2 linked regions of the Homo sapiens genome follow. Each later gene encodes a partner of the first gene's protein in a complex. Each region holds a gene or a part of one and is shown on either strand. Other genes may lie near its edges.

Region 1 (7,148 bases):
ATTTAAAGGCTACAGTTTGCTGGCAGTGAATAGCATCTGCTGGTCTTTCCTCTTCTGAGCAAACAGTATGGCAAAGATTCAAAGCTGGGCTCAGCTCTTACTAATAGGATCCTGCAGGAATTAGGAGGAAATGAGATTATCTTGAAAGTAGAAAAGAGTTAGTCTGGTTTAAGACAAGACCTTTAAAAGAGATAGAAACACAGGCAAAGACACACACACATGCACTTAATATGGTCATACAGAATCAGACAAAGGGGTTTATTATCCTTTATGCCTTTGCAAGTGTTGCCAACATTAAAAGCTACAAAACTTGATAACTGGATGGCTCCCTAGAGACTGTCTAGTTCAACTCCCTCACTGGACAGATAAGTAGCTGAGGCCCAGAGAGGTTAAGCAACTTGGTTGAGGTCATTCAGCAGTAAATGGCAGTACCAAGACAAACAAGCCTTCTGACCTTTCCCACTTGCCCACCCAGTACTTGATCTGGCATCTTTCAGCAGGTCAGCATCCTGACCTTGCTGTGACAGGGTATTTAAAAAATAATAAATAATCCACACACAAAGGTTTCTCAGTCCTGCCCAGGTTCCCAAAAAGTACAAAAGCAACCTCAGCCCCCAAGACCCTCTTTCCAGAGCCTTCCCTCATGGGACTAAGGGAAGATCTCAGTTCATCTTGGGCCCTCTCCTAAGCCCTCTTTGGTGTAACTACTCTTTCAGTTCCTTCCTCACATCTACTCTTAAAGGTTGCTTCTAGAAATTCCCCGCCTCAAAGGTCAGGCACTTCCCAGGCAGAAGTTAAAACCTGTTAATTTGCAAATTCTCTGCTTCCCTCAAATGCTATAGTTTGAGACAGGAAGTACAGACTCCCTTAAGTTTCCTCCAGCCTCCTTGAGTGAATTCAGTCACAACTGATGCCTCCCTCCCGAATATAACTAGGTCCTTTTATAAATCATGTGAGTGTGTGAAGGGCTGGAGAACCCTTAAGTATGCCTAAGACAGGGAAGAGGAGGAAAAGGCCACCGAGGAAGGAAAGATCAATTGCGGGGAGAGGGGAGACCGGTAGAAGGAGCACCCTGACCAAGCTGCAAAGTCTGGATCCCAGAGACAGCTAGCTGCTGGGACTGACTCACTGCTGAGGGGCCGGAACTGCGAGGAGATGGCACAGTTTTAATTATAAGCTCTGACTAACAACAGACCGGTGCCCCCAACTGCACACGTAGGAAGCAGGCAGAGGCTACCCCAAAGTGGCAGAAACAAGGAACTCTCTGTTCCTCCTGCTCCCTTTTCGCCTCTCATCTGAGGCTTGCCACTCCGCGGACACACCCGGCGCTCGCCAAGTTGTCGCATCGCCCCCCGGTGGGGAACGCCCCTCCCTGCTCTCCGGACAATTGGAGGGAAGCACAGAGCAGCGGGGGTGTCTCCGTCCTGCCAAGGGCTGCCTGTCCCTCGCCCAGTGCGGGGAAACTGGTCCGAGAGAATGAATGGCTTTCGCCGAGCGCCGGAAGCTGACGGGCGTGGGGCGCTTCTTGCCCCCAAGCACCCGCGCCCGCGTGGGGTGTCCCTCAGCCCGGGTCTCTACTCTGAGGGTGAGAAGCGTTCGCGTCACAGCCAAGGGTTCCTTCCTCACACGTGCACCCACCCACAAGACCGGAAGGAAAGCTTCGCTTTTGCCTTCCCCCCTGCCCCCCGGCCCTCCCTACCTGAATTCCGGGACCAGGTTAGGCTGCAACCCGTAGATGGCAGAGGAAAGAGTAACCAGCCACCCGGGCTTGTAACTCCCGTTCTCGCACTCCAGATAAGGCGGAGACCACTTGAAGTGGCTCTTGTCCCCGCCGAGCCCGTCCTTGCGCCGCCAGCTGTGGCCCAGGCCCCGGGGCCCCTGATTGGGGCCGCGGCGGTGTAAGTGGGGCCTCCACTTGCGCCGGAGGCCGTGGAACCACTCGGTCTCCAGAGTGGCGTTGGCCAGGTGGGGTGCGGAGGAGGACAGGTCTTGGAGCAGGATGCGGCTCTCCTCGCGCGTGGCCTGGAGGAAGACCTGTGGGGCCGGTGCGGACAGCGAATCGGTGCTGAAGGTGATGGCCGCCCGGGAGATGCTGGGCTCGCCCTCCAGAAGGCTCCACACCAGCGCCTGGTACCAATCCAGGTCGTCCTGCAAGTTCTGCTCCCGCGACTTATTGCTCTGCAGCATCACGTTGAGGAAGTTGGTGGCGTGTGTCAGTGTGTCCAGCGCCCGGTGCAAGGAGGGGTGCGCGCTGGCCAGGGCTGGCCACTTCCCCGGCAGGCCCGCCAACTCGTAGCGGCCGGAGCAGTTGGCTCGCTTCAGCTGGTGGGAGTCCCCGGTGTAGAGGTAAGAGGCCACGTCCATGGGCACCTCCTCGGCGAGTTTCTGCGCCAAGATGGTGCCATCGGTGGAGCGGCTCCAGGGAGCCGAGGAGTCCGAGGCAGAGGCTCGACCCGGCTGCTGGGCGTGCGGCTTCCCCTTCGGGGTCCTCTCTCGAGGGGAATCCGGCCGTCCTTGGGGGTCGCGGCTGGCGCCAACAGCTCCCAATCCCAGCTGAGCAAGCAGGAGGCAGAGGAGTAAGGGGTAAGCCATGGCTCCCATCTGCCTCCCAGAGAGAAGAGGAGGGAACGGGAGGGGGGGGAATCACTTTTTAAATTTGGATCGTCAGTTTCTCAACAGTCAGACTTTTTCGAGGAGTCTTCCCCCTTCTCCAGATGGCACCCAGTCCAAAGGACTTGAAAATAAGAATGTTTCGAGATTGGCCCCGGGTGGCTAAGCTACCGTCGCAGAAATCAAGTCACCTGTGGCAGCGCTGGCCGTGCCCGCTGCGCGAGGGGCCGGCTGGGGATTACGCACCTCGCAGCCTGGAGCCGAGCGGGTTACATGGCCTCGCGCTCCCAGCGGCTGGAGTCAGCCCGAGTCCGTCTCTCGGCCCGGCTGCCGCCACCGCCGCTCTCATTGAGGCGCGTTCAGAAGCTGCTGCTGCTGCTGCCGCCGCGGCCGCCGAAGACGCTGCTCCATAGTCTCACCCGCCGCAGGTCGTTCCCGCCTCCCGGCACTGGCTCCTCCTCGACCGCTTCGCCCGGAGGCGCGGGGCGCGCGCCCAGACCCGCACCGCGAGCGCAGCCGCGACTCCCGAGGAGCGAAGACGTCCTTTAAGACGTTCGTCTGTCCGGAGTAGCGAAGGCCGGGCGGCTGGTTAATTGCAGCCTTTAGGTTTGGCCGCAAACCACACTCCACCCTCTCTCCCTGCTCCCTCCTCGGGGGAGGAAAGCCAGTTTAAAGAGGCAGCTTGGCCGCAACCAAACCCTTGTAGGGCGGCTGCAAGTCGTCTTGTTCCCTGTTTGGTCGGCTCCTCTGTCAATCAGCCGACTGCCATTTGTGGGGCCGGGGAGGGAGCTGTCCAGTGCTGAACCCGAGGCGGCCCGCGGGCGGCGGGGGCGCGGGAGGCAGCCTGCCGAGTCCTCGCACCCACTCGCGTTCCGGATGACTCGGAAACCTGCGTGGGTGGCGTAGGGTGGGCGGCAGAGGGGGGAGAAGCAGAGATTCGGTGGCTCAGAGCGAAGGAAACTTGGACGTACTGAGGGGGAGGGTGTTGGCGTCTTGCATGCTTAGTTAAATCAGCCTTTTGCCTGGAAAAGAGGGAGAAGGGAGTAGTTTTCATTTCTAGGTGAAATTAGACAGAAGGGACATAGGATGGAGACGTGTCCTCCTGAGCATCTGCTCATTTTAGGCAAATTATCAAATCATCTTTCTTGTTGTCAGTTAAAGAAATGATTAAAACATACTTGTCTAGGCTCATCTTAGCTGAGGGAGTAATGGAGAAATCTACCAGCTGTGCTTTAAGGAGAGAAAAAAAAGTCATATTTAAGGAATCTCTGCTTGGGGGCCAGAATGGAGGGGAACGTGTAAAAATGTATGCAAGTAAAGATGTGTAAGGGAGAGAGCAAGGGGGAGGACTCATGAGCTCTGGGAGAATGAGAAGGAGCCTGTGTTGAGTGAGAAGGGAAATCATCCTGACTGGGAGTTCCTGGAATTGAGAGATAAGAACTAAGACTTCTATTTAGCTAAAGGTTGGGATATCCCAGCAGAAGAAAGAAGAACTGAGCAAGTATGCCAAGTCCCCCAAATTATTGGTAAATTTCTTAACACAATCTAATTGATGTTTTGACGCTTATTAGAGAATTTAAGTGTCTTCTGACACTCCAAAAGTAGACTGGTACCAGAAAAGTAGTGTTTTGCACAGCTAGCTCCACTTTCCATATGCACCTCTATTTTCAAATTCCCCAAGAAAGACACAAATAGAAAATATCCAACTTACTTTAATTCCCAACTAACAAAAATGTCCCTCATGGCATTCTAAGCAGGCACTGCTTAGATTCACTGTACTATTTCATGTCATCCTTCCTATTGAGAAAATACTTAAGGACTGGAATGTAAGCTCCAAAAGAGCAAAAATCTTTGTCTGCATTGGTCACTGAGGTACCTTGAGCACCCAGAACACTACCTGGCACATAGTAGGCTCTGGCTAAATAGTTGCTAAATTAGTGAATGAATGGGAAGATCATGATGATGAAGCTAACTTAAAAATCAATCTCCTCACCCAAGAAGAGAAGTCTGCCTGACACACCAGTGATGAGGGTTTTTGGAAGAAGACACAGCAACCAGTTTTTCAAACCGCAGTGGTTGGTCTCCAAATGAGTTTTTATAGTTATGCAAAGAGTGGTTATTAGATTTATATTTACTTACAAGTAGATTTCATGTTCATTTCCGACTTTTTGTTTAAATTTTTCTTTGCAATGTATGCTCCTATGCTAAGTAAAGGTCATCCCGGTTTAGTGCTCTGCCACAGTATGGGTGGCAATAATAACAGAAAGAGTTTCTGCTTATTTAATGTATCAAAGTATAAACTATGGTATTCCATTTACTTAACCATCTAAAGTCCGAAGTATAATTTCCTCATTCATTGATCCTTTTAGAAAACCTATATAACTTATTAACAATTCTTTAAAATCCTCTAGTATCTAACTTAAAAGAAGACATAATTGTATTCGTAGATCCTTCTGTAAGTAATCAAATGAACTAAGCACAATCAAAAGACCTGGATTCTGGTTCTAGCTTTATTTTAAAGGAAGATATATGACCACTGGCAAGACATTTAAAATTTCTGTGTCTTGGGACACAAACTGTGTGTGGGCCTCGGGATTTCACATTGAGGTTGTACGGGGGAGGCACCTGAGCTAGTCTCCCAGGGCACCAATCCTTTCCCAAGTGCATATCTAATGAGAAAGATGCAGAATATGAGAGACTCTTGCAATTATAGTATTCCCTTCAATGGATCCCCTTCAACCTACATTGCCAAACAGCTGGGATGAGCTAGTTGGATCTAGAACAGCACTGCCCAATAGAAATACAATGTGAACCAGAAGTAGGATCCTTATAAATAATTTCAAATGTTCAAATAGCATATTAAGATAGTAAAAAGAAAAAGACTGAAATTAATTTTAATAGTAAATTTTATGTAACCCAATATATCCAAATTTTTATCATTTCAATAAGTAAACAATGTAAAAGTATTAATGATATATTTTACACTTTTTACACTAAGTCTTCAAAATCTGATTTGTATTTTACACTCACAGCACAAGGCACTTCACACTAGCCACATTTCAAGTGCTGACTAGCCACCCGTGGCCAGAGGCTACCCTAGAGTACAAGCTCTAGAAGACAGTCCATTGCGGTCCAGAGTGCTAAGAAATCTAGGTCCATGCAAGATAAGGCACAAAGTTCCAAATGCTCTAGGAGTTCTGGTCCATTTAATAGGTCTGGAATCAAGGTAACTGAGTAGGTAGATAATCCTATGTCTATGTTAGTGTCTATCAGTAAAGAGAATAATCCAAAAGAGATTCTTTTAAGGGATCAAGGTTTGACACACACACTCACAGACACACACACACTCCTCAAAGCAGACAACAAAATTCTACACCATCTTGCATAAGACATATTCATTCATTCAACCAATGTTCATTGAGCCTCTACTATGTATCAGGCATTGTGCTTGGTACTGGGACGAAATAGGCACATCTTCTGTCTACGTGGCTCTTACAGCCAAGTGGGTAGAGAGAGAGAGCTAGAGATAAAAATGCAAACAAATAAATAAGACAATAGCATGTTGTGATAAGTACCACGAAGAAATAAACACTGTGAAGTGATAAAGGGTGCAAGGTACAGGAGCAGAGAACATATATAAAGAGATAAAGGAAAGAAAGACTATGAGGAGGTGACAATTGAGCTGAAACCCCAAGAATGAGGAGTAACTGCCTAGGTAGTAAGTAGTAGTGAACCAGGTAAGTGTAAGATGGGAAGAAACTTACCTTAAGTAGAGGGAGTAGTGAATGGAAGCACTAAGAATACAAATATTCTCTCCTTAGCAGGAAAGGCAAGTGGAAAAAAATAAATGCAATATGCTAACGGTCATATGTAATAAGAATAGAACAAACAATCGACACAAAGGAAAATCATTTTATAAGATAAGACAGGAAGTGGGGCGGGGATGATTATCTCCCTCCCCCAATTATATAAGCATGCTTTGTAGATAGAGATAAATATCCCTATGCATGCCTCAAAATTAAGAGCTAAGTTGTCTAAATGAACATATATACTGTGTAGGAGCTTTATTGTATTTTAATAGAACTATGGGTACATGACCTATGACCATGGGTGGAAAAGCCCAAGGAGTTTTTCAACACAGCCTGAAAAGTCAATCTAATTGCTTTAGAACAACCAAATTTGCACTGATGAAAAAGCAGTATGTAATGGGCATATGGGTTATTAGTTGTCTTTATATGATTGATTTATCACTATTATAAAGAGGAAGATGTGACATTAACATATCTTTAAATAAAATAAAGGTCACAAACTACTGAAATCATATTTTATGTGAGCAGTATAGGTTGAGTTTTAAAAAATATTTAAATACAGCTTTAAATCATTTAAATAAGCAAGGATTAAGACTACAGGATGTGGTGAAAGGGCACTGGATTGGCCATTGAGAGACTCAGCTCTAACTGGTTCTACCATTTTCTAATCATGTGACTCTTGACAATTTTTTTCAACCTCCCTGAGCCCTTTCTCTAAATCTAGAAAAT
Region 2 (7,027 bases), on another chromosome or scaffold:
AAATCATGTCAACTGGGCTTCTAAATGATCTACAGCCTTGGGGACACACAGCAAGCAGAGGAAGACTTGGTCAGGAAGTGTTTTGCAAAGATGGCTTTTGCAAGGACACTAAGGGAAGTTGAGACACTTGCCCAAGCTTGCATAGCTACTCAGGGGTGGGGTGAGAATTCACATCCAGCTCTTCTGACTCGCGGTCCTTTGACCCTTCATGACTACTACTCTGCATGGGCTATCACCCTCCTTTAAAAGTTCAGAGACTTAGACAAGAGAAGAGAGATTATAAAAAATAGATTCCTTTTATACCTTTTATACCTCAATTTAAAATTCTCAGAAAGGGTTCTAAACACTTTAAATCCCTTTTACCCAGAAGCTTCTGGTTTTTGCTCAGTCTTGTTAGGAATTGGAGTGGCTGTGATACATCTCTGAGATGCTATGAAATAGAGATGAATTGAAATACTTTCAACATCAGCAAATCATCTGAGGCCCCATAAACACCCTGCACAGTACATTCATGGTACATGCAGGCCTTTGTCTTACTGAAAGACAACCTATGTCATCTGATGTTAGGAGAGTCACTCACTTCAGACCACTGAAAGTTTCAAAAAAAGAGAAAAAAAGTCATAAACCAAGTAAATAATCAGTGTCATTTACCATTATATCTACCATTCCCTTACGAGGCCATGGTCTATGGTCTTCCTTTAAAAGTTCTGTTGTATTCTCTTGAAAAAAAAATAATTTGTTGAACTCTACTTTGTTTTAAGCACTGTATGCAACTGTTTAAGTATAGCATATTGTTTTATCTCTTGTCTTGGACTTGATGCTATTTGTTCAAAGTCCTTTACTTCCTGCCACTGTGCTGTCCAATCCAATGGACACTAGCCACCAAGACCATTTAAAGTTAAATTTGAATTAATTAAAATTAATTACAATTTAAAATCCAGGTCCTCAATAACACTCACCACATTTCAGGTGTTCAGTTACCTCACGTGGCTAGTGGCTACTATATCAGGCAGTGAGCATATAGAACATTTCGGTCATGATAGAAAGTTCTATTGGACAGCATCGCCATAGAGCATCAAATCCAGGACTTCCAGCTAAGATCAGATATGAACAGAACGACCACCAGAATAGGTCAGACTAAGTTCCCAATCTTATCGTTCCTGGGGTTCCAAGAGCTAAACTACAGGTCAGAGAAAAAAAAGCATCTAATCTATTTAGAGGGGTTGACTAGATATCCTGGTATAATCCACGATGCCCATGAAGCAACCAGGATGCTGATTATTCACTGACACTAAATTACAAACACAAAGTCTTAGTGGATTTATTGACAGAGAAAGAAAGAGAGGCCATAGAAAGACAAATAAATAAAGACCTGAATTCAAGCTGCGTGACTTCAGGCAAATTGTGTTACTTCTCTGATCCTAAATTTCATAATCTGCAAAATGAAAAAGTAGATTAACTCTGAGTTTCCTTTCACCTCTGAAATTCCTGGATTCTAAGGCTTTATATAGTTTGCATAATACCCAAGGAACTGTGCAGACTGCCAAGATATATAAGACAAGATGCCAAAGACTTTCCCATTAATGAGTAGAGGAAGCTGTCTAGATAGGGCTAAACAATGTAAGACGGGACATTTTAAGTATCATAAAAATGGTATTACCAATGCATCCTACAGAAGCCTCCTCTTTATCTTACCAGAAAAATATGACTGGAGGTAGTGGAAACATTCACTTTTCTTTCATTATCAAAAAATATGGTAACATAGGGTACCCCACCTGGCATATATCGGGTGTTTAATAATTTTTGTTGAAGAATAGTAATAAGATAAAATGATAATAATATTAATTATACTAGCAGGCATGTATTGGAAACCTAATATATACTAGGTTCTATGCAAGACATTTTCCCCAGGCTATCCCATTCTAGCATCAAACAGCTCTATGAAGAAAACATTAAAACATTTTTTATTTTTTTATCACTTTATAGATTAAAAAACTGCAGTGAAAGAAGTTAGGTCACCAAACCACAGCCACACAACTAAACAGTGGCAGAGCTGAGATTTAAAACCAAGACTTCCCAATTCTAGTGCACATGCTTCCTCCATTTCCACCCATTGTCTCCTTAAGAAAACTTTTACTTGTCAATCACCAGAAAGGACCAAAGAAGACTCTCAAACTTTTTAGGAACCCAGCTAATTTCACAAAACTGCCATTTCCTATATATTTTTCCAGACGACAAAACAACAATGTATCTTTCCAGATAGGCCACTCAGCCAAAATATTTTCTAGTCTAGACCAGGTGGCAATTTCAGTGGAGCTGGAATTGAGTTCATGATTGCCTGTTAGTGTTCCAATGTCCTGAGACTTTTGTTAATTAGACACAAGACAAAGGGCATTAAAAAGAAGCCAAGTTAAATTTGCATGGCTGTGGGCAAATGGCAGAAAGAAGTGGGCCTTTGTTTCCTACGGAACTGGGCACCCACTCTATCATCTACAATTATTTTATAATTGGGTTGATATTTTGTAGGATAGAAGCCTGAGTAACCCTGACATCCATATGCCTCCTTATCACTGTCATGAAGTGGAAAGCAAGGGCCAATTATTTGTGTTGCTCGTTTTCCACAATCTTGTTTTCAAAGAGACTTAACATTAAAGTCACTAAACTGTCCAAATTCAAAGTATTTCCACATTCTCTGCAGTGATCACATTCTGTCACCCACACTTCCTAAAAATACCCTGCTTTCCATCACTCACTAGAACCACAGAGGCTATTAGAAGGTAATAAAATCCCTCGAGGGCTTCTCTTTTGCACATTTGCACTTTCCTCTGATCAATTAGATTCAGGGAGATTGGAAGTGGGAAATAAAAGAAATAAAATTCAGGCCACAAATCCTTCTCATAATCCCACAAGTAGCACTGACAAACAACAACTGGCAAGGAAAGAGCTCAACCCTGGAAGACTCTCCTGCTCTAAACTCAATTATTATCCAAAATTCATCATTAAATGATTACTCATAAAATCCTTCTATCTACTTCTCATCAAGAAATATCATCATGGAAATATCAATGATGGTCCTATCTTATCTCAGGGTACATGTCAGTATTAGTATCACTGAGATAAAAACAGATCTGAATATGTTTAGGGTAGACAACATCCTTTGGTCCAGAAAGTTTCTTTCAAATAATCTGATTTACAAAAGACACTCCATTTAAAAATTTTTCAGAAATGGCAAGATCCTTCTCTCAGTGCCTGCCTCCCATCTGAGCCCTTAATTTAGAAATCTGAGGGCTTAAAAGGACCATGCCTTTCATAATGATCTTTTACAAACATTCCTTCCTTTTCTAGTGCGTCTTTGTCTTGTTGTCCCTTGTATATATTCCTCACTCTGCTAACATGTAGTAAACCCAGACGGATTAAGAAAACTAAGGTTCAAAAATGTTAAAGATCAACTGGGCACGGTGGTGCATACCTATACTCCCAGCTACTCAGAAGGCTAAAGCAGGAGGTTCACTTGAGCCCAAGAGTTCAAGACCAGTCTGGCCAATACAATGAGACCCCATCTCAAAAAAAAAAAAAAAAAAAAAAAAAAGCCAAAGATTATTTTTCACGACGGGGATTTCGGCGAGAAACATCGACACCCTCAGCGTTGACCAGATGGGCAGTCCTGCACTGACAAACCCACTGAGTTAATGTAGAATATGTCAGCTAGCTCAATGCTAAGAGACCAGTAATATCTGTGGCCCAGTCTCTTCCAGAGAAGAAATCAAGCCACTCCTCTCTCTGGCAAGTATGTCTCCTCTCATAAAACAGGCTGACTTCAGAAGTAGCTTTCAAAGACAATGCTTAGATCAAGCCAATCAGCGTAAGTACTCTTCCTGGTTGGGTGATAGCTCTCACTGTGACTTCATATAAGAAAAGCCAGTGGTCTTGTCTTGCTCTTCAAGAATGGAGCAGTCACGGCTGGGCACTGTGGCTCACCCCTGTAATCTCAGCAGTATGGGAGGCTGAGGCGGAAGGATGGCTTGAGCCTAGGAATTCAAGACCACCCTGGGCAACATAGTGAGACCCCATCTCTAGAAAAAACAAAAAAATTATACAGGCATCATGGCACCCACCTGTAGTCCCAGCTACTTGGGAGGCTGAGGTGGGAGGATAGCTTGAGCCTAGGAGTTCAAGGTTAAAGTGAGCTATGATTGCACCACTGCACTCCAGCCTGGTCAACAGAGCAATACCCTGACTTTATTTAAAAAAAAAAAAAATAGAATGGAGCAATCTTAACCCTAAAATAACAACCTTTTGCCAGTACCACCATATGATACCATATGTGAAAGATTTATTCAGGTACCTGAGCTTCACAAGTAACAAGGCTGGCATCTATTCTCTTCTCCAAAAGGCATTGTTTCCTCCTTTACAACTAAATAAACAGTGCAAATTATGTCCTCAACTTTAAGTCAGGTTTGAAAAGAAAAAATAAAAACAAACGAATGCAAAGCAAGAGACTATATAAGGATGAAGGGACAGCACAGGAGAATGGAGGAGAGAATGGGCATAGGAGAAAGGTGAGGGGAAGGGGGAGAGGGGTGAGGAACAGTGAACTTGGTAAGTCTGCTATTTCCAAAACCATGTTTACTGCAGTAAGATAATGAATGAGGAAAACATTTTCATTTTCTTTTCTGACAGCTTGAGCATAAATGATAGCTGCAATAATATCAGAAATTATTGGGCATTTTGAGGAGTCTTGCTAGTGAGAAGCCAGCATTCCAGCCAATTTGAAGCTCTGGCCCCAAGGTGACCTAGAAATTTTGTTTTTCAAATGCAGGAATGTCAGCTGCTGGACTGAAAGTGATGTATACTGTCTAGTGGACAGCATGCTGGCCAGACACCAAATTTGGAGTGTCTCTCCCTGTACTCAGTTGTTCTTTACGGCCAGTGCTGCCCCCACAAAGGAGAGTTTTGTCTAAAGCCGACCAAAAACGGGGGTAGTGTTTAAGATCCATCAACACCAAATAACACTGAGTTTTGACTTGTCACCTCTACAGATTCTTCAAGAAGCTGATCTGAATCCAACACCTCTTGGAGTTAGTTGGGTCTCTTCTTCCTAAGGCAGTTGATTACTACTAGTTCTAATCTAGTTAGGGGCCTGACTGAAGGAGGCCTAAAAAGTGCCAGGAATAAAAGCAGTCAAGCCTCATAATTTTATGTGTTTTTAAACAAGACACCCTCAAGTACATAAAACACCACAGCCATTGTAATTTAATCATCTGCTTATGAAAAAGACAGCACTCTAAACAGAAGAACTGATAAGGCAAATAATTTGCCTATAAGGATTTTTAAAATGTGTCTCTGACATCAAATGAACTCTACTGAGATTCCCTGTATTATGCCAAAAACCTACTGGCCAACATCCAAGACTGACTTGCAAGTACCAACCCTAATCCGGATCATGAAGCAACATTACCATCACCTGTACCCTTCAATAGGGTGATATCCACTCTACCTTAACAATCAGAGTTTTATCCGCTGTACATTTTTTCCATAAGATTCCTATGGACTTCTCCATGGAAAACAGATCCCTGGAATCTTTCTGTGATTTGGAGGAACTCCTGTAATTTGTATGAGGATAGTGATAACGAGAGAAACATCAAACACACACAAGAAATTTACACATCCCAGCTTTTCTGTGTATTCCACTTTGGAAACCAATAGCCTATGAAGATAAAATGGAAACAGCACATACATATCTTGAGTGTGTGTAAATCATCAGAGTCATATGCAATAAGTAAACAGGAGGTGTCATGAGGAGGGAAAACACCACGAATATTCCCAGTTCAGAACACACTTTCAAGAACGATGCTTCAATAGTGAAGTAGAAGGGGAAATGGGCATGAGTCAATAGAACAGCAATTTCTCTATCCTTTCTCTCCACTGTTACTAAGCAATGTCCTATTGGAACTGAACTTTTTTTCTAAGTCTTCGATTGACTTCCTAATTAATAAGCATTGTAATCTAGTGTTTATTCCTTTATGAAGGCAGAGCAGTTGAAATATCCTAACACACATATTCAACCAACACCCCTCTCCAATTATTGTGTTGTTCTTCACATTGAAATTTGGCCTCTACTGAGAAGATATTGAATGGAAAGCCCATATAAGATAGAAAAAATAGAAGCATAATGGACACACGAAATATGTGATGTCACGATCTATGTCTACACACAGATAAAGACCATTTGACCTGATAACTAGCAAATGATAAGCAAGGACGCTGTGTCTCTTTATACATTATCTGATATTATTTATATATTGTTATTTCTATCACAAAGAAAAACAAAAAACATATGCTCAGAGAATACAAGAATAGACAGACAATCCATAGGTAAGCATTAAGAGTAAAATGTACTGAAAGGAGTTACTTTTTCCAATAATGCCTTATCAAGAAAATCTTTCTTTGACAAGTAAGTTATATGTGGTCACTAATAATAAGCAAAAAGCTAATAAAAGAAGGGAAAAATGAGTAGCACAAGCAGTTCCCAGCTTAATCAACAAAATAATCATGCTTTAAAAAATGAGGTAGTACATTCTCTTCCTGAAATCATTACAGTCTGTTAACTTAAAAGTAAAATTAATGGCGATTCGATGCTATACAACACTGTGTAGAGTAAACCCAAAATTACCAATATGAGGCTCAGGTACACTAAACAGTCAAATAACTATTTCTGAAAGCCCTGTCTTCTTATTTTTTCTTTTTTTGTTCTCATAATAACTGACTGAATGACACACACTAGTTGCTGCATATTTAGTTTATTTCTAATGAAGATAACTATTAGGTGTCCAATCTACTCAGTCCTTAATCTTTTAAAGGGAAACAGAGAGGGAATACAATTGTTTAGCCTAACGGAAATAGCTTACTACTATAATTTTCCAACCAAAAGTCTAACTCTTCACATTGTATACACCCATAAGATAGAATTCAAAATTCTCACAGCTTGCATATTACAATACTCAGAGTCTTACCAAACACAAAATAT

Evidence for each region. Proteins that work in one complex are often made in the same cells at the same time.
Region 2: the proteins of GPR158 (region 1) and RGS7 are in contact, whole or in part, in a cryo-EM structure (PDB 7SHF), measured with the Homo sapiens proteins. Residues at the interface, in NP_065803.2 of Homo sapiens: Leu507, Lys508, Phe510, Leu511, Arg513, Thr514, Tyr595, Tyr598, Ala599, Thr602, Val603, Pro604, Ile714, Arg715, Leu718, Lys719, Tyr722, Leu725, Glu726, Tyr728, Lys729, Arg730, Met733, Ile734, Thr735, Asn736, Asn737; in NP_001351815.1 of Homo sapiens: Gln35, Ile43, Ser55, Arg109, Phe110, Thr112, Pro113, Tyr114, Phe115, Lys134, Thr136, Lys140, Ala141, Arg142, Leu143, Leu145, Ala146, Asp147, Ala150, Leu153, Gln157, Trp164, Phe168, Met169, Gln170, Glu172, Ala173, Gln174, Lys176, Val177.

The regions. Positions count from the first base shown.
Region 1 is NC_000010.11:25,170,874-25,178,021, reverse strand, and holds the start of GPR158 (metabotropic glycine receptor precursor), read right to left. Parts: upstream 3,022-7,148; 5' UTR 2,602-3,021; coding exon 1,700-2,601; intron 1-1,699. UniProt on the Homo sapiens protein: Metabotropic receptor for glycine that controls synapse formation and function in the brain. Acts as an atypical G-protein coupled receptor that recruits and regulates the RGS7-GNB5 complex instead of activating G proteins.
Region 2 is NC_000001.11:241,347,179-241,354,205, forward strand, and holds part of RGS7 (regulator of G-protein signaling 7), read right to left. Parts: intron 1-7,027. UniProt on the Homo sapiens protein: GTPase activator component of the RGS7-GNB5 complex that regulates G protein-coupled receptor signaling cascades.